2 separate regions of the Homo sapiens genome follow, and region 1 is linked to region 2. Evidence: fine-mapped expression QTL. Tissue or cell type: lymphoblastoid cells. Region 2 holds a variant in brackets; the other region holds the start of a gene. All regions are shown on one strand. Distances are between the middles of the regions.

Region 1 (7,348 bases), 42 kb after region 2:
TAAGAAAACTTGGAGCAACTGAACTAGAGGGTCTGGCCACTGCGGGCGGGGCATCCTGAAGAAACACTGCTTGTCAGAGTACAAAAGGATGCCTGGACAACCAACAACAGGAATAAAAAAAAGATTAAACGCTGCTTATTAAACGCCATTACCATATAGTATGTACACATCATGGCGTAATCATGTCTCTTTGGTGACGTTGGTGATTTCTTGATGTAGCCTGCCATCTGCCCTTGTTTTAAGGGTTCCCCTTCCTTGAGGCATTTGCATTTTAAAAGGAATCAAAGCCTGCAGGTGAAGGGATGATGCTGGATTGGTAGAATTTCAGGCATTCATTGAAAATGGATCAAGGGTTTTCTTTTATGTTGGCTCCTTCCCTAGGTTCTTGACTTCGGCGCCAGCCACGAAACCACAGAAAGCATCCCCCAGGACCTTGGCGTTGGACTCCTTTCATTCCCTTCCTCCCAAAGTGTCCCACTGTTGCTCTGACTTGGGGGAGCAGGGGTCTCCCTGGCCCTCCCGGCTGCTCCCGGCTCAGGAGCGTGGGAGGTGAGGGGAGGTGAGGGGACACGGCCGGGGGCGGCTCGGTAGGGGCCCCGCGCGGCCGCCAGGGGGCGCTGCGCCGCCGCCGAGGCCGCGGCCGCCTGGGCGTGTGGCCTGGCGTGGGCACTTTTGTGTTGTTTAGATGCCAGCGTTCGCCGCTCACTCCTTTCTCAAACATGTTTCTAATTTACCCAGTATGTCTTCTACGGAAAAAAAACTTCAGGGAAAAAAGATGCATGCTTAACGTCAGTGCCAGGGTGGGCAAAAAGGGGTTTTGACACCAGATGCAGGTTTAGTTCCCGAACCCTCCGGGCCTGGGGTGAGCCGCCAGCAGGCCCCCTCCACAGCCGCTCCTCCCGCTGGGGACAGAGGCGCCTGGAAACGCACACGCCCGAACCCGGCCGCCCCGAGAGCCGCGCGTGGAGCCAGCACGCCCGCAGGCGCTCCTCCTGAAAACGGGTTCGGTTTCTGGCCGGGCAGGTTCAGAGCCGGTGCCCAAGGAGGGGAAGGACGACGCGGCACAGAACCTGGCGCGCCCACGGAGGGGGCCTAGCCTGGGCTTCTGGCCTTGCCCGGGCACTGCCGGCACTCCCGGGGAGCAGAGAGGCGGAGGGGGCACTGTCCGTGCGCCGGGGGCAGCCACCGGGCACAGGGCGGGGTGGGGGAGGTGCGGGAGGAGAGGAGAGCCAGAGTCCGGTCTGATGGGGGTCGGGGGGGACGTGGGAAGCAACAAGCCTGACGCCTGCAAATAGAAGTCATCAGGAAAGAGACCTCAAGGCCCATTTGACTGCTGGGAGGTCTCCGGGGTGGGGTCCTGGGGGGAGGAGTGTCTGATTGGCGGCTAGGTTCTGTTTTTCAGACCAGATTAAAAAAAAAAAAAATTCCCCTGTCGCCTGGGGAGATGTCTCAGTCACTTTTCTCCAGCAGGAAGCTGCTTCATGTTGGAGCCTCCTGGGATTGGCAGAGTTAAAAATCCTTTAACCCAGGATGCCTTGGGCCTTTTGTTCAGCCCTGACAATAGAATTGGGTGGAGGGGGCTGGGAAGGCAAGTAGCTGGGTTAGAGATGCATCCGTGGGGTGGGGGTATGGGGAAGCTTGTGTTCAGCCACTGGGTACATGAAAGCAACTGTGTGTGTGTGTGTGTGTGTGTGTGTGTGTGTGTGTGTGTGTGTGTGTGTGTCGGGGGAGGGTATAAGGGAGCCCAGGGACACTGGGGCACCAGCTCGTTAACACGTGTGTATGAATGCCGGCTGTGCGCTTGGCAAATCCTTAATTACACAGGGAGAACTTCCTGAACCGGGAACTCAGTATCGGTCCCTGAAAGGTTGGGTAATGGCTTCTTCTTGCATCTGGAATCCAAGGGGACCAATCTCTCTGGCTCCCCTGGGCTCTCAGATTCTTCTAGATGTCTTTGTCTTCTAAAATTCTGGGATCCCAAGGGAAGACACATAGTTAAGGACACTCAGAAATGCATACCTTTCAACCCTACTAATCATCCTAAAACCTGTGCTTTCAACATATCACGTCCTTGATCTGTAACCCTCAGGGGCACCCACGATCTCCAATGACTGGGAGTGATGGCATTTAAGTCTTTCCACCATGCAGAAGTTTCTTCCCTCATTCCCCATGAATTCTCTCCTGTAGCCAGCCTGGCCCCTCATAACCCCTTGGATATACTGTATCTTGAATTCTCCAGCCTTTCTGCAGTTGCCTTCCTGGGACATTCATTCCCATGTTCACAATCTAGCCAATTGTATCCCTTCTCTATTCAGTTCTAGCATCAGTCAGTCAATCAACAAGCATTTATTGAAAGTCCACTATGTACAAGACATGTTCTAGGCCCTGGTAATACATCAGAGACTGAGACAAATACCTGTTCTTAAGGATTTTATATTTTAATGGGAGAAACAGAGTAGACTCATGGCTCACGCCTATAATCCCAGGACTTTGGGAGGCCAAGGCAAGAGGATCACTTGAGGCCAGGAGCTCAAAACCAGCCTGGGCAGCAAGTGTCTTCTTTTGCCTCTGCAAAAGAAAATTAAAAATAACAAAAAAAGGAAGCTAAACTAGAGTATTGTGGTAGAGGGGTGTGTGTGTGTGCATGTGGGTGCATCCGTGTGTGTGGTAGGTTGATGGGTGCTGTTTTATTTAGCCAGGGAAGGTCTCTTTGAGGAGGTGGCATTCGAGACCTTCTGGGTGGGAAGGAGGCAGCCATGTGGTGATCTGGGGAAGAGTGCTGCAAGCAGAAAGGCAAGTAAAAACAAAAGCCCTGAGGCAGAAATGTGCTCCTTATGCTTAAGAAACACCGTGAAGGCCAACGTGGTTGGAGCAATGTGAGCAAGAAGAATAGAGGGGCCTTGGGAACATAGGTAGCTGAGTCCTCATGGATCAAGGTAAGAAGTGTGGGTTTTATTTTGTTGCAGTGGGAAGCCTTTGGAGGGTTAGAAGGTGGGGAGTGAAGAAAACAGTTAAGATACTATTGCAAAAGTCCTGGCAGGAGGAGATTTTAAAAACCACAGTTGTGGCTATGGAGATGGTGAGATGTGATACTGGTTTCTGGGTCAGTTTTGGAGGTGGGAATAGATAAGGCTTACTGATGATCTGACCCAGGACTAACTGGGTAGTCCTATGTTGGGGGTAGGAGGTGGATCCATAATTGTGTTTGGGCCATGCCAAGACCTATCAGACATCAGGTAAATATGTGTAGACAGCTTTGAGTCTGGAGTTCAGATTTAAATTTGAGAACCAGCATGTAGGTAGTCTTCAAAGCAGTAGGCCAGAATAATTCCACTTAGGGAGAGAGTCAAGAAAGAAGGTAGCAGATGGCTGAGACTGATGCCACTCCAACCTTTAGAGATCTGGTAGGGGAAAACCCAGCAGAGCAGACTGAGGAAGACAGCCCATGACACTGGAGGAAAACCAGAAGATGGTGATTACAAGGAACTCAGCAAAGGAAGTATTTTGAGAAAGAGGATGTATCAGTCTGCTATTGCTAGGTAACAAACAACCACAAAAATCTCAATGGCATAACAGTAAATATTTATTTGATTCACAAAGCTGTGAGTCAGCTGGAGGTTGGCTAGATGAGGCTGATGTTGGCTGGGCAGCTCTAAGCCACCGTTGGGCTGAGCCTGCTCTGCATACATGTCCCTCACTCTTTTTGTACCTGCAGGCCAGCTAGGGCACATTTTTCTCCCATGGTGATAATAGGCACAAAAAAGCAGGTGGAAACATAAAATGCCTCTAAAGACCTAGATTTGGAACTGGCACCATGTCACCTCCTCCTACATTCCATTGGCCAAAAGGGGTCATGCAGCCACGCCCAAAGTCAAGGGGCAAGAAAGTACAGTATAGTCTACATCTAGCGGGAGGGACTGCAGAGTCGGATTGAAGGGGATAGGGATAGAGTGAGGCAGGACAAGAAATAGGACCCATAATTCAGTCTTCCACAGAGAGAGTGGTCAAACGCATTCAGTGCCACTGACAGGCCAGATGAATAGAGGATGGTGAACTGGCCACCAATGTGACCTTAAGATGTCAGTCATTGGCATCCTTGATAAGAGCTATTAAAACAGACAACTAGGGCTAAAAGCCCAGTTGGAGTGGGTGGAAGTGAGAATGAGAAGTGTGGAGGTGGAGATGTCAGTGTGTAGACAACTCTTTCAGGAACAGTCACTCTAAAGAGGGGCAGAAACATGGTATAATAGCAAGAAGGGGATATGAGGCTAAGGCTTTAGAGCTTTTTAAGTCCCATTTAACTTCCATGGAAAGGCTCTGGTAGGAAGGAAGAAATTGATGAACACAACAGAAAGGGGATAATTGTGCTGGCAAAAGGGGATGGGGCCCAGGGCACAGATGGAGGGCTCGGCCATGGGTGGTGGGTGGAGAGAATGCAGAGCTATAGGCATTCTGGTGGCTTTGGAGGGAGGTAGGAAGATCCGGCAACAGATCGTACCTACTTTCTCTATGAAGGATAGTCTGAGGTTACAGTGAGAATGAAAGAGGAAGGGGAGTTGAGAATATGCAGAGAGAGGAGAAAGTGTGACATTATTGCACTGCGGAGAGGGAAAAGGAATTTTCTAAGTAACTGTAGTAGGATTGTCCAACAGTTCAAATGCCTGTTTGAAATTTATGGCCAGAAATTTGAATTGAGTCCATCCAGAGTAGCTGGCCGATTTTCTTTAGTGGTGTTCAATTGCTCAGGTGCAGGTGTGAAGTAAACAGTTTGATTTAACCACAGCTGGGTTTTCGCCCAGTGAATACAATGGAGAGAGACCAGAGCAAGGAAGGTAGGAGTGTTTGCCAGGGAGATTTTGTGTGCTGGAGCATGGAGTTTCAGTTCTCAGCTGGCTGAGAACGAAGGCCTGAGGGGAGAGATGTCATGAGAAAACAGGAGAGTCATGGAATAGAGGTCTGAGATGGGAAAATTGCTGAGTCCAAGAACTAAAGTAAGTGACCTGGAGGACTGATAGGTGAAGGGATCTCTGGATCTGAGAGTTTAGAGATGGTGTAGACATTCATGGTTCCAAGATCTAGCATATGACCAGGAGGCTGAGGCAGGGCAGGAGGAATATTCTGCTAGGGCTAAGGATATTAACAGTCTTAGAGATCGGAGTGTTGGGTGGGTCATCAGCATAGATGCTGAAGTCACCAAAAATGATGATATGAAAGGAGATAGAGCCTGATACTAAAATAATCAAGGGTTGGGGGAAGTGACTAGGAGGGTGACAGATGACATTAGGAGGGGTGATTTGTGGCTTTTTTAATTAAATATTTTTAATTTTTAATACTTTTTAGAGTAGTTTCAGATTCACAGCAAAATTGAGTGGAAAATCCAGAGTTCTATATATCCACCCTCCTGGGAGCAGTGTCCCCCACTATCAACATTCCCCACCAGCATTTGTTACAATTGATGAACCTAAGTGACACATTATCACCCCGAGTCCACAGTTTACATTGATGTGAATGCTTTATTCTTACTTTACATTACTTTTGCTGTTGTACATTCTGTAGGTTTGAACAAATGTATTATGACATTTATCCACCATTATAGTATCACATCTAGTAGTTTCGCTGTGCTAAGAGGCCGGGCTTTTGAAAGAGGAAGGAGAAACCGTTTAGAAACTTCAGTGATCAATGCGGAGTACATCTTCAGGCCCTGAGCTGCATAGCTGGAGGGAGAAAAGAGCCTCTACTGGAGAGGGCTATAGGGCAGCAGTGTCCTGGGGGCAGGTGGGCTTCTGGAAGAAGAAAGTGAGGGTCCTAGTTTTGGAGGAGCTTGAGAGTAGAGGCCTGGGGTAAGACTGGGGAGCGCAGGCAGGGTGGAGGCAGGGTTGGCTGCTGGGTGCTCAGCAGTGTGGGGTCGGGCATGTGTGCTGTGGTGAGTGGGGGCGGCTGGGGCAGGTGGCAGGCCCTGGAGGGAGGTGGCAGGTCGGATACCCTCACCTCGCCCTGTTGTGGAAGCTTTCCAGAAGACTTTGGGGAAAAACAGACTTCCCTTTCCAGGAACCCCTCTAAATTCGGTTGGTCGTGGTTCTCGGGGTTTATTATGTCCTTCCCGGTATCTCCAGCGTTCTTCTTCTCTGTGGATTTCTTATTTCCTCAATTAGACGAACGTTTGGGCAGGAACCCCAGCTCTACCATTTTACACCCGCTCAAGTGCAATACAGCACTTGACACATCATGTTTGTTGATTGCGTTGGATACAAGTGCGGTTTGGTTTCCCTTCCCGGCCAGGAATCCAAGAATGCACCCTCACCCCGCGGCTGCCTCCCGGGGCCAGCTGCCGTGCTGGTCCCCGGTAACCCGACGCCGGGCCGCTCCCCCTCCCGCCCCGGGGCTGCGGCCGCCAATGGACGCAGCCCGAGCCTCCGTCTGGGCCATGGGCCCCTCTCGGCGCCGCCCCCGCTGGGCTGGAGCGGGGGTGCCCGAGGCAAAGGGCCTGCAGGCGCGCGAGCACAAACCGGCTCCAGTTCCTAGCCCCTGCTCGCCTCCCTCTTCGTGTCCCGGCCCCGGCCCCGCCGGGACACCTCTGCCCCCTGCCTCGAGCCCAGGAGGCCAGGCTGCCGCCCCAGGGCGCCCGGGCAGTCGCAGACGGCGGCCTCCAGAGGGCCACGCCGGGGCCTCTCCCAGCCCGGGAGCCAAGACACTTGGCTCTGGCCTCTCTCCACCGTTTGATCTGCCCAGAGACCTTGGGCGGTCCGAGAGCCTCCGAGCCTCAGTCTCCTCATCTGTAGCTGGGGCTGGGCCCTGCGCACCTCTGAGTGGAGTGATGCAAGGGTGAAGGGTGTGAAAGTCTCCCTGTGTTGCCCAGGGGTCAAGGTCAAACCCAAGACACAGTGCCGCCAGCAGCTGCCCCGCCCGCAGCAGCTGCAGAACCGCAGCTCCTCCTGCCACCATCCAGGGAACTCCCTAGCTCCAGAGGAGGAGCCTATCAAGGGCACTTGGCTTTCCTCCACGTCCCCGGCACGGCACGAGGCGTTTCCTGCAGCTCCTAACTTCCAATGTAGAAATCAGCTCCGGGTTTCAGCAACCCTGGGAGAGGAGGCTGGAAATAGACGCTGGGCCAGCAGGAAGGTGCACAGGCGGGACACCTTTCAGCTGCCTGTTTCATCTCCCGTACATGATACTTGCTAGAGTGTAATAAGTGTACCAGAGGAAACACTCACTGACAAAGCCTATTTTCTCCCCAGATGGTTACAAATGCACATTCTTGAGTGACCTTCTACAGGCTACAAATACTGACGTATTTATACTGTACCTTGGGTCATGGTACCCAAAAGAAAAGCAAAGCAAAGGAGAGCTC
Region 2 (10,551 bases):
CCTGACCTCAGGTGATCCGCCCGCCTCGGCCTCCCAAAGTGCTGGGATTATAGGCATGAGCTGCCACAACTGGACCCCAGATTTATCTTAACGTGTGCTTTGCATTGATCTAAAAGGCTATGTTTTCAAAGATTTCATAAGTTTCATCCGCAATGCTCCAAGCGTGGGTTACCTAATAAACAGCATAAGTATGAACAGATCTAAGTAGAGAAAAATCAATGCACACAAGAATTTTGTTGGCCAGGTGCAGTGGCTCACACCTGTAATCCCAGCACTTTGGAAGGCCCAGGCGGGCAGATCACTTGAGGTCAGGAGTTCAAGACCAGCCTGGGCAACATGGTGATACCTCATCTCTACTCAAAATACAAAAAAATTAGCTGGGTATAGTGGCAGGCACCTGTAATCCCAGTTACTTAGGAGGCTGAGACAGGAGAATCGCTTGAACCCGGGTGGCGGAGGTTGCAGTGAGCCGAGATCATGCCATTGCACTCCAGCCTGGGTGACAGAGCAAGACTCTGACTCAAAAAAAAAAAAAAAAAAAAAGAATTTCGTCCTTCTGTGTATATGTCTTCTTTAAGGAGCTACCCCATTCTGGGAAAGCACGGTTGGTACCATGTGAAAAGGTGCCCCCATCACCACATTTACAAAGCATGAGATCAGGAATTTAAAAGGCACCTTCACTGCCTCCCATCTGCCTCCCCCACACTTGTCTGATCCCCTCTTCCTACCACGTGTGTCCTCTCCTTCCTTCAGTTTCACACACGATCCAATTCTCTCAGCCCCCAGCATGGGTTGCCTCCTGGTTGTGCCTCCTTGACTCAGCCCATCCCTGGACAACAACAGCTCCTTCCATGGCTTTACTTAGCTCCCTGGACCTCGCCTTCCAGGTCTTCTTAAGCAGCTCAACCCACCCCTAGTCCCACCTTCAAGGAATGAACTTGTATAATATTCTCTCTGATCCTTTTGCAGTTATGCATAATGACTGGGTTTTCACGCTTATGAATGAGATGTGCCTCCCTCAAACATTGTTATATGTCAGCACATTATGCATCTGACATGAGAAAAAAAATTCTCCCTTGCTTCAAAACACTTTTGCAAATTCTCTTCTATGTGGAAAACAAACACAGAGAGGAAGTAGAGATGATGAATGTGGACAACTCATTTGAAAACTTGGGGTGAGAAGGAGAAAATTGAGATTGGGCTGTTCTTAGGGGGGATAAGGTGTGCAGGAGTAGACTTGCTTGCTGTACCCTATACCCATTCTCCCTCCTGGTACATTAATAGAGTCTCTGTGTTTAACTGGTATATTAGGGCATTCTTGTATTGCTATAAAGAAATACTTGAGACTGGGTAATTTATAAAGAAAAGAGGTTTAATTGGTTCATTAATTTATAAAGAAAAGATCTCATGTGAACTAAAGTGTGAGCTCGCTTATTACCAAAGAGATGATCCAAGCCACTCACGAGGGATCCACCCCCATGATCAAAACACCTCCCACCAGGCCCCACCTCCAGCATTGGGGATTACATTTCAACATGAGATTTGGGCAGGGACAAATATCCAAACGGTATCAACTGGGTACCAGAATAATGGCTGATCCCCAGCCTTCCTTGCAGCTAAGCATGGCCATGTTGCTAAATTCTGGCCTGTTGGGAGGTGATTGGAAGTCACACCCTCATGTGGAAGGGCTCTCCATCTCCCCATCCCTCTTTCCCGATGCTGCTTACAGCAGTGAGAGTTATCATGAACTGTGGAGACAAGGCCACCCCTAGGAATGGTGGAGTGAGGACCCTTAAGAAGCTGAGCTCCCTGCCACTAAGGTATTGCCCTGCCAGCTTATGTGAGAAATAAGTAAACTTTCATCTTGTTTAAGCTTTTTAAGTGGATTTGATTATTTGGGGACTTTATAGCAGTCAAACCTGCTTCCTAATTAATAGTGGTGGATAAAAGGATCTTCACTTTCTTATCTTTAATGAATTTTGAACGTAGTCTGATGCCAATTGGAAGAATCCGGGAAAAAGTGAGGTTGAAAATACAGAGTGATCTGGAGTGATGGTTAATGCAAGTGTCCTGAGAAGGCAGGAGGAAAGAGGTGAAAGGGTGTGGGGGCGCTGGCCTTGAGGGACTGCGCCACCTGGACAAGGGGAGGGCAAAATGGGAAGCTGGATTCAGGAGACTTGAGATTTGGCAGCAGGAAGTTGAGGCAGTTCCTGCCTCATGCTTCTGATTTTTCAGCAAAGCAGGAGGCAAGGTCCTCTATGGAGAAATCAATCCAGAGCAGGAAGGTAAACCTGACAGAGCTTATGTAAGGGCTCAGAGGTGGTAGCGTGGGCTGGGCAGCCCTTCCATGACTGTCTGCATTTATGTTGTCTAAGAGCACAAGAGCTAAAAACCAGACACTGTGACAACTTAACTCTATGTCAAGTACTACACAAGGTCATCACTGAATAGGACTTGAGAGTAAACATTTGTTCTATGATTTTGATCTTTAAAAATAAGAATATAGCTGGGTGTGGTGGGCACACACCTGCAGTCATAGCTACTGGAGAGGCTGAGGCGGGAACAGTGCTGGAGCCCAGAAGCCTTGGGCTGTAGCACACTGTGACCATTAGGTGTTTGCACTAAGTGGAGCGGGGGTGCCACCAGGTTGCCTAAGGAGGAGTGAACCAGCCCAGGTCAGAAACTGAGCAGGTCAAAACTCCTGTGTTGATCAGTAATGGGATTGCACCTGTGAATAGCTACTGTACTACAGCCTGGGCAACATTGCAAGACGCTGTCTCTAAAAAAAATAATAATAAGAAATAAATAAAAACTAAAAAAATATATAAAACAGGTTGAAAGCCTTATTCAATATATCCAATTTATCAAAATTTCTAGCTAAAATGTATTCATTGTCTGCAGTTTTCAAATTATAACAGGTCCTTTTGTTTTTTTAAAAACAATGGCACAATTAATGCCTAAATAAAACACCTATGAGTGGTATCGGGGCTCAAAAACCAATACCCCAAAATATGGCCATTTGTACATGTTGAACTGAAAAAGGAGCCTCAAGGTCTCTCTGACCTCCCCTTCCCCACCCATCTCTCCCAAAGCATAGGAGGACGCTGTTCTCTGAAGCTCCCTTTTCTGCCTAAAGTCTGCACCTACCAAAGATGAAAAGAATTGCCTTTAGCCCCTTCTCTGAGTTTTCATTAACTGAATCCATATTATAGGAAAAAAGACTAGTGTCTGCCCACACACCTGATGGACTTTTGTCACAAACCATTGTCCATTCTCTGGGCCCAACAAGCTTTGCCCCAGGCCATTGTATGTTCTTCAAGCCCATTGAATTCCCCTAAACATCATTTACTACTCCTCTAAAATCATCCACACTTCCCCATCGCCCTTTCCCCTGAGAAGAAGGGTATCTTCCTCTGAAGCAAGTTAGAGAAAAAAAAAGAATTAGACCATATAAGCCTCTACACCCCACTGGGGGGTTGGGTCTTCACCCTAAAGCCTCCCTTATCACGTTAACTCTAATAAAATAAATGTGTATGTTCTTCCTCCACTGAATCTGTCTTTTGTGAGTCGAATTTTCAGCAAATCTTCAGAGGGCAACAGTGGAGTTTTTTCCTTCACCCGAACAGTGGCCATTTTCATTGTGAATCTGGCATGGTTAGACGCGATGCTGAGCTTTTTACATGGCTTAGCTCTCCAAACTATAAAATAGGTGTTTTTATCCTTATTTTATAGACAAGGAAGCTGATGCCCAGAAACATTAAACAACTTGCCCCAAATCACACAGCTATTAAAGGGTCAAAATTTGAGCCAAAGTAGATCTGATTTCAAAATCTGTGCTCTTAACCACGCCCACTGCCTTCTCTTAGTGCAGGCCAGTCTAAGTTTTGCTGCCCTTCTAGAAAGTTATGGGATCTTTATGGAAACAGAATTTCTGGTGGCCTGCCTGATATCTCAGGGTGGCCAGCTGAGAAATCAGGTTAGACACACCCTCGGCCCCTCCCCATTCCAATTTGTGCTGCAACAAGCGCTGGCCTACAGCCCTGCACTTTCTTCACACTGCCAGGCATGTAGCACTACTGTGGGCTGGCAAAGACCTGCCTGCACCAGCAAGGGCCTCCGCCCAAAGTGTAGGGCAGCTGTGTGCAGGTCTGCACAAAAACAGTCTCCAACAACAACACCTTGTGGCAGCCACTGAAACAATCGTCAGGGGAGCTTCCCCATTCTCTCCATCAGACCTGCAGACACAGTACTGACTTCCTGGAACCAAGTGCTTAGGATTCTTAGGAGGTTTAAAGGGATGTTTAGATGATCAGATTTCCTGCTTATAAAGGTAGATGGGAGTTAATGATAAAAATGAGAAACATGGCCTTATTTGCACCTCAAGGCAGTCATACATTATATTTGTATAGATTGCTACCTCTGGGACTGTCCCCAGAACAGGACCCAGAACATGGAGACATGTGTCAGGTAGCCAACTGTCCTGGGCTGCCTGCTGTGTTGTCTCCTAGGACTTCTCCAGCTCCATTTACAGTCTGGCTCCTGGGCCTTTGGATCCCAGCAGTGTCCGAGCAGGAGCTCAAAGGACAGCCCCACCATGGGGGATCAGCCCTAGAAGCTGTCACTACATCTCCAACGGACGCAACTATTTTCCAGGTAATAAAGCTGCAGTGAATGCCACCTGTCAACTAGTTCCTTTCAAATTCTGACTTGGTTTGGTAAGTCTGTGGCTTGTTGTCATACCACTGGCAGAAAAGGCCCCTTCCCTGTAGTCAGACTGTAGAGGCCACAGGGGCTCTTCTGAAAGAGGAAGCAAGCTCTTTTCCAAGCGTTATTTTTATTTGTTGTACATTTTAGCAGATTAAGCACTTAGGGTTGGGATTTTAAAAATATTTCTTCTTTGGGCCAAGGAGTGTTTTCACACAGCTAAGTTCTTTGTATAAAGCTGCTCCAAATCCCTGACTAATTAATTCCTAAAGAAGCAGCACGTGGCTCACAATGACTGGCACCCCCTCTTTATAAACAGGAACACCGGGGGAGAGAGCCAACAACAGCACAGTGGCCCCGGACCGTGACCCTTGGACTGAAGGAACCTACAGATGTGGTTTTTTTTGGTGACATTTTACATGCAACTCCAGATTTCAAACTCTTTTGGAGAAGCAGGCAATCTGGCAACAGTCGTTTTGGATTCTCAGAAGGCAATAAAGAACAGCTGCCACCTTCCGAGGGGCACGGTGGATGCCCTGTTCTGCCAGAATTGCCAACACGTTTATCGTCTTAGACTTGCCCAAGGTGTCGCAGTTAGAGACTGCCTCCCTTATTCACGCTCCTGCCTGGTGCCCGTGGGCTTGAATTTGCTCCCCTTGGAGTGGGGTGAGGCTCTGCAGACACTTCTCATACACCTCCCCTGCAGACAGCAAGCTCCTGGAACACAAGTCACATGCATTTCATTTCCTGCTCTCTTGCTACCACCCAACATGGGCTCTCAATACATGTTGAAAGCAAGGATCAATGAATAAATGGGCAACTATCAGCTGTAGACTTGTATGTGCCAGGTATGGTGCTAGGCATGCTAGGCACCAAAAGGGCCACAGAGGTGTTACATGCCAGGATATCAGGGAGTTCATGACATAGTGAGGGAAAGAAAAAGCTTATGCAGTGTGTGTGTGAAACTTTAAGCAAACATGGTGCATAACAATAACAGGAATGACTTTGCCTGCCCCTGATGAAACTTCAGCAGGGCTATGCCCTGTCTTGCCACCTTTAGGAAACAGCAGTCTTATAGTCCTTTGCCCCTCTGAGTTACAACCACTGTCTCCTTTCAGGAGAATGCCCAGTGTTATATCATAATCAAGGCTTTGAACTTGATGTGGCATTACATGTTCTTCCATCTCCCCAGCCACCTGAGAAGGGAGATGGGGTAGCTTTTCTCTCTCACTCTCTCTCCCCCAACCCCTCCTTTTCCCACC[G/A]GCAGGTGAATGAGCTTCCTGCCCATAGGAGAAAGGGTAAAATCACAAGGTGGTGCCCTTGTCTCCAAATCTCAAGGTCCTCTGGATGGCAGGTGAGTAAAGGTGACTCTTGTGATTATGGGTGTTTTGGGTGTTCCTCAGAGATCCCCCAAACTGGGGTCTTGTCCACCATTCCCAGGACTCTGCCATGTGGAGCCATGGGAATGTGAAGTTCACCTCACACTTCCTTTCAGCTGAGGTCACCACACAGCCCCTACCAGCCCGGCTATATTGGGTGGGATTTCAGATGCCCCCACAATGGCTGCCTTGGAGACTTTCCACTGGTCCTCAAGAAGCAACAACGCTCCCCTTGCTCTGCCTTTGGTGGAGGGCAATTCCTCCTCTCTCTCTGCCTGGCCCCAGGCTGCTTCCACTGTCTCAGAAACTGGTCCCCGGATTCCCCCAGTTACAGAGAACCCTCATCAAGCTCTCAAGTGGCCACTGAAACCCAGGCTCTCTAGGCTCTGGAGTATGGAAGTGACAGCTCCATTTAATTTCTCCTTTCCTCTTGTAGGCTTACAGCATAGCACTCTCCCAAGAAATCATCCAAAAATTACCTCAACCATTCTATAGACCCCAAGCTGACCAGGGGAGGGAGGACCAAGAATCTTGAAACGTAAATACTACATTTGATGGTCTCCTTCAGACTTATTTTGGGATCTGATATCTCTTTAACAAAAATTATAAAAATTGAGGCAAAGAGAGCCCCATTTTTTATATACTGTTCTAATAAATAACAGGTACCCTTAGAAGAATGCAGACAAACACTCCTATGGAAATTTAAAGGAGCATAAGACTTCTTGCAGTATAGGGAGAGAACCAAGGAAGACTTCCTGGAGGAAATGGCCATTGAACTGGGCCTTGGACATGTGGAGGTGAGGGATGAGAGTATTCCAGATGAAGAGTCCAGCATAGGGAAGGCCCACAGGAAGGAATTGTGCTGTATTAATGCTGTCTTAGAGGCATTTCCATTGCCAGACACAGATACTCAAATTACTTCAGAGAGAGAGAGAGAGAGTATTGAAAGGGTTTCTGTGAATACCTCCACAACTGTGGTTCTCAAAGTGTAATCCCTGGGCCAGCAGCATCGGCATCACCTGGGAACTTGTTAGAAATGCAGATTCCCAGGCTGGGTGCAGTGGCTCACGCCTGTAACCCTAGCACTTTGGGAGTCCGAGGTGGGTGGATCACCTGAGGTTGGGAGTTTGAGACCAGCCTGACCAACATGGAGAAACCCTGTCTCTACTAAAAATACAAAAAGCCAGGTGTGGTGGCGCATGCCTGTAATCCCAGCTGCTTGGGAGGCTGAGGCAGGAGAATCGCTTGAACCCGGGAGGCAGAGGTTGCGGTGAGCCGAGATTGCACCACTGCACTCCAGCCTGGGTAACAAGAGCGAAACTCCACCGAAGAAAGAAGAGAGAGAGAGAGGGAGAAAGAAAGAAAGGAGAAAGAGAGAAAGAAAGAAAAAGAAAGAAAGAAAAGAAAAGAAAAAAGAAAGGAAAAGAAAAGGCAAATTCACCAGAGCCTTTGAATCAGAAAAGAACCCCCAGGGGCTGGTGGTAGCAGTCCTTGCACAGGCCCTCCAGGTGATTCTCATCCAGGGAAGCCTGCGAGCCCTTGAGGTGGAATATTCTCAGGAATCCCTGAGATATGTGAAGAACTGATGGCATAGGCTATTTCTAGGGAGGAAATGGGGCTGCTGGGTGCACAGATGAGGGGAGGTGGGAGACCTCTGTAATTGTGTACCATGTGCATATATTACCTATTCAGAGAATAATAAAACAATGCGTTTAATCCCCCGTCTTCCTCCATCTACTTCTCTCGTACCCCATAGCTGCTCTAGCACCTCCACCTCCCTCCTCAAATGGTGTTCTTTGCTTCCTAGGCAAGCTGGTTTTCTGTTCTCCCTTCCCCGGTCTTCTCTTGCCTGGTCTTTATTACAAGGTGTGCTAAGCCTCATAAGGACAGTTGAAGAGAAAAGAAGTGAGACTGTGCTAGTGGCTATAGAATTCTGCCAGGAGAGCTGGAGGTGGGGAGGAAGACTATGAATTCAACCATGCCAATAATTTCAGTCAAAAATTAAGAAAAAGCCCATCTCCGCCCCCTTTTCGGTTATCAAATATGCATTGTTTTCCTCTTTTGTTGGGCTTTTGTGTCTGTTTCATTCTCACCTTGACTCAGCCCCTGTGAGCTTCAACTCTAAGCCTAACTCCAGCCACGGAGAAACCACGGAGAGGTTTGTCCAGTGTCTGGAAGATGGACTGACTGCTGAAACAGGAGCAAGAAGAACCTCCTAGCAGGTCAGACATACCCAAAGACAGCCACATGGAAATGGACACTGTTGCAAGGACGTGTGTCCAGCAGAGCAGGGGCAAATGCCCCTGGTGCTATAACTCCTTAAAGGCTCAAATATCTCTGCTGACCCAGTGAGTGCCCCTCAGCTTGTGGTGTGAGACTGAACTTACAGACACCACCTCAACTCGAGGAATTCAATGCAGTGATGAGCTGATTTATGGTGTTTGCCAATTCCTGTGGTGTAAATAACTCATCGCATGGCCAGTTTCAGGCTACCAATGTGAAGTCACTGAACCCAAAGTTTGGAAGAGATTTACATAACAGTGGACATAGTTACTGGGCTTCATAGAGAAAGCTACTAAACACAAGTGCCCCTGGGGTCCAGAAATCAACTTCTGGTTGGAACTGACCTATATGGTGCCAAGTGTGCATCTTCTAGGAGGACACTAGCATTAGCATGTCATCCGCCAGTCTTGCAACAAGCCTTTTCCGTAAGAGCCTTTGACTAACATTTGTTGAATTTTGTATTCACTGGGGGCTGGACGTGGTGACTTATGCCTGTAATCCCAGCACTTTGGGAGGCCAAGGCGGGCAGATCACTTGAGGTCAGGGGTTCAAGACTAGCCTGGCAAACATGGCTAAACCTTGTCTCCACTAAAAATACAAAAATTAGCCGGGCGTGGTGGCACACGCCCATAGTCCCAGCTACTTGGGAGGCTGAGGCAGGAGAATCACTTGAACCCAGGAGGCAGAGGTTGCAGTGAGCCGAGATTGTGCCACTGCACTCCAGCCTGGGTGACAGAGTGAGACTCCATCTGAAAAAAACAAAACAAAACAAATTTTGTATTCATTGAGCCAACTAATTTATTGATTTTTCATTAAGTTTTTTTTTTCTTGAGATAGAGTCTCACTCTGTCACCTAGGCTGGAGTACAGTGGTATGAGCTTGGCTCACTGCAATCCCCGCCTCCTGGGCTCCAGCGATCCTCCCACCTCACCATCCTTAGTAGCTGGGAACACAGGCACGCACCATCACACCCAGCTAATTTTTGTATTTTTTGTAAAGACAGGGTCTCACTGTGTTGCCCAGGATGGTCTTGAACTCTTGGGCTCAAGCGATCTACCTGCCTTGGCCTCCCAAAGTGCTGGGATTACAGGCACGAGCCTCTGCGCCTGGCCTTGATTTTTCTGAGTGCTATGAAAGAAATAAGCAATTATTATGGGTTTTCCTCCTTTAGGATTAATGAGTCAGTGAAGGGCCAGAAGAAGGGTCCCTTGTAGAAAGTTGGGCAATATTTACACGTCATAATGAGGAGAGAGGCCATTTCTCTTACTGTCTCCTGTCTCTGAAGAGAAGGAGGAAGTAAAAGTTGAAAAACAACAGGAATGAAGTCAGTGGCAAGACCAGCCAGTGCCACTGATGACCAGGCCTGAGGTTAAAAGATTAACCCCCGACTCTAACCGCATGTGCTCTCAATCTATCACGACCCTTTCACATGGAACCCCTTAGAGTTGTAAGGCCTTAAAACTCTGGCTTCCTGGAGCTCGGTTCTTGAGACGCGAGTCTGCCAAAACTCCCCGCCGTTGAGACGCGAGTCTGCCGAGGCTCACAGCCCAATAAAGCCAAATCCTTCGTAGCCGGGTGTCTGAGGGGTTTTGTCCGCGGCTGTCCTGCTTCATTTCTTGGTTCCCTGACCAGGAAGAGAGGTGGTTGATGGACGGTCGAGGCAGCCCCTTAGGCAGCTTAGGCTTGCCCTGGGAAGTATTCCTACGGGGGACTCCGGCCAGCTTGAGCGATGCGGATCCTGAGAGCGCTCCAGGGTAGGCATTTGCCTCGGTGGAACGCCTCGTCAGAGCAGTGCACTGCAGGCCCCCGCGGAGGATCAATGCAGCAGCCGAACACCGGGAAGGAACTGGCGCTTGGAGTCTGGACATCTGGAATACGGTAGGCCCGGTCCTGGGAACTTGCCCACTCGATTTGAGTGGAAGCGTGGCCTGATCACCCACAGCCCACCTTTGTCGGCACTTTGGTTTTGGTTTTGATTCTTGACTTGGTTTGAATTGCTTAACAGGCTGGTTCTGGGAATTTGCCCACTCCATTTGAATGGAAGCGAGGCCTGATCAACCACGGTGTGCCCTTATCAGCACTTTGGTCTCAGTATTGATTTTGATTTGGCTTGACTCGTTTGCAAAAAGGAAAGTGAAAGTGAGTGAGTGCTTGAGTTTAAGATGGGCGAGACAAGTGAGTGACC

Direction of the effects. Alleles are on the strand shown, and positions count from the first base shown. SD is a standard deviation of normalised expression in the study named.
For the expression in lymphoblastoid cells of the gene that starts at base 2,719 in region 1, allele A in region 2 goes with a lower level than allele G (small effect, 0.28 SD a copy in TwinsUK).

The links. PIP is the estimated chance that this variant, and not a neighbour inherited with it, causes the effect.
Region 1: LINC01800 starts here. The variant in region 2 is fine-mapped to the expression of LINC01800 in lymphoblastoid cells (TwinsUK, PIP 0.95).

The regions. Positions count from the first base shown.
Region 1 is chr2:64,859,002-64,866,349 of GRCh38, reverse strand. It overlaps LINC01800 (long intergenic non-protein coding RNA 1800), which reads left to right and starts at 2,719. Exons shown (of 5, transcript NR_110224.1): 1 at 2,719-2,936. RefSeq lists silencers at 533-732, 6,241-6,444, 6,204-6,723, 6,761-7,055 and an enhancer at 5,694-5,913.
Region 2 is chr2:64,899,093-64,909,643 of GRCh38, reverse strand. LINC02245 (long intergenic non-protein coding RNA 2245) reads left to right here. Exons shown (of 3, transcript NR_036586.1): 2 at 4,509-4,653; 3 at 5,024-7,804. It overlaps LOC124906172 (small nucleolar RNA U13), which reads left to right and starts at 958; the gene lies at 958-1,057. It also overlaps the pseudogene RN7SL211P. RefSeq lists an enhancer at 4,855-5,149 and a silencer at 5,342-5,536. The variant G/A (reference allele first, on the strand shown) is at 5,967.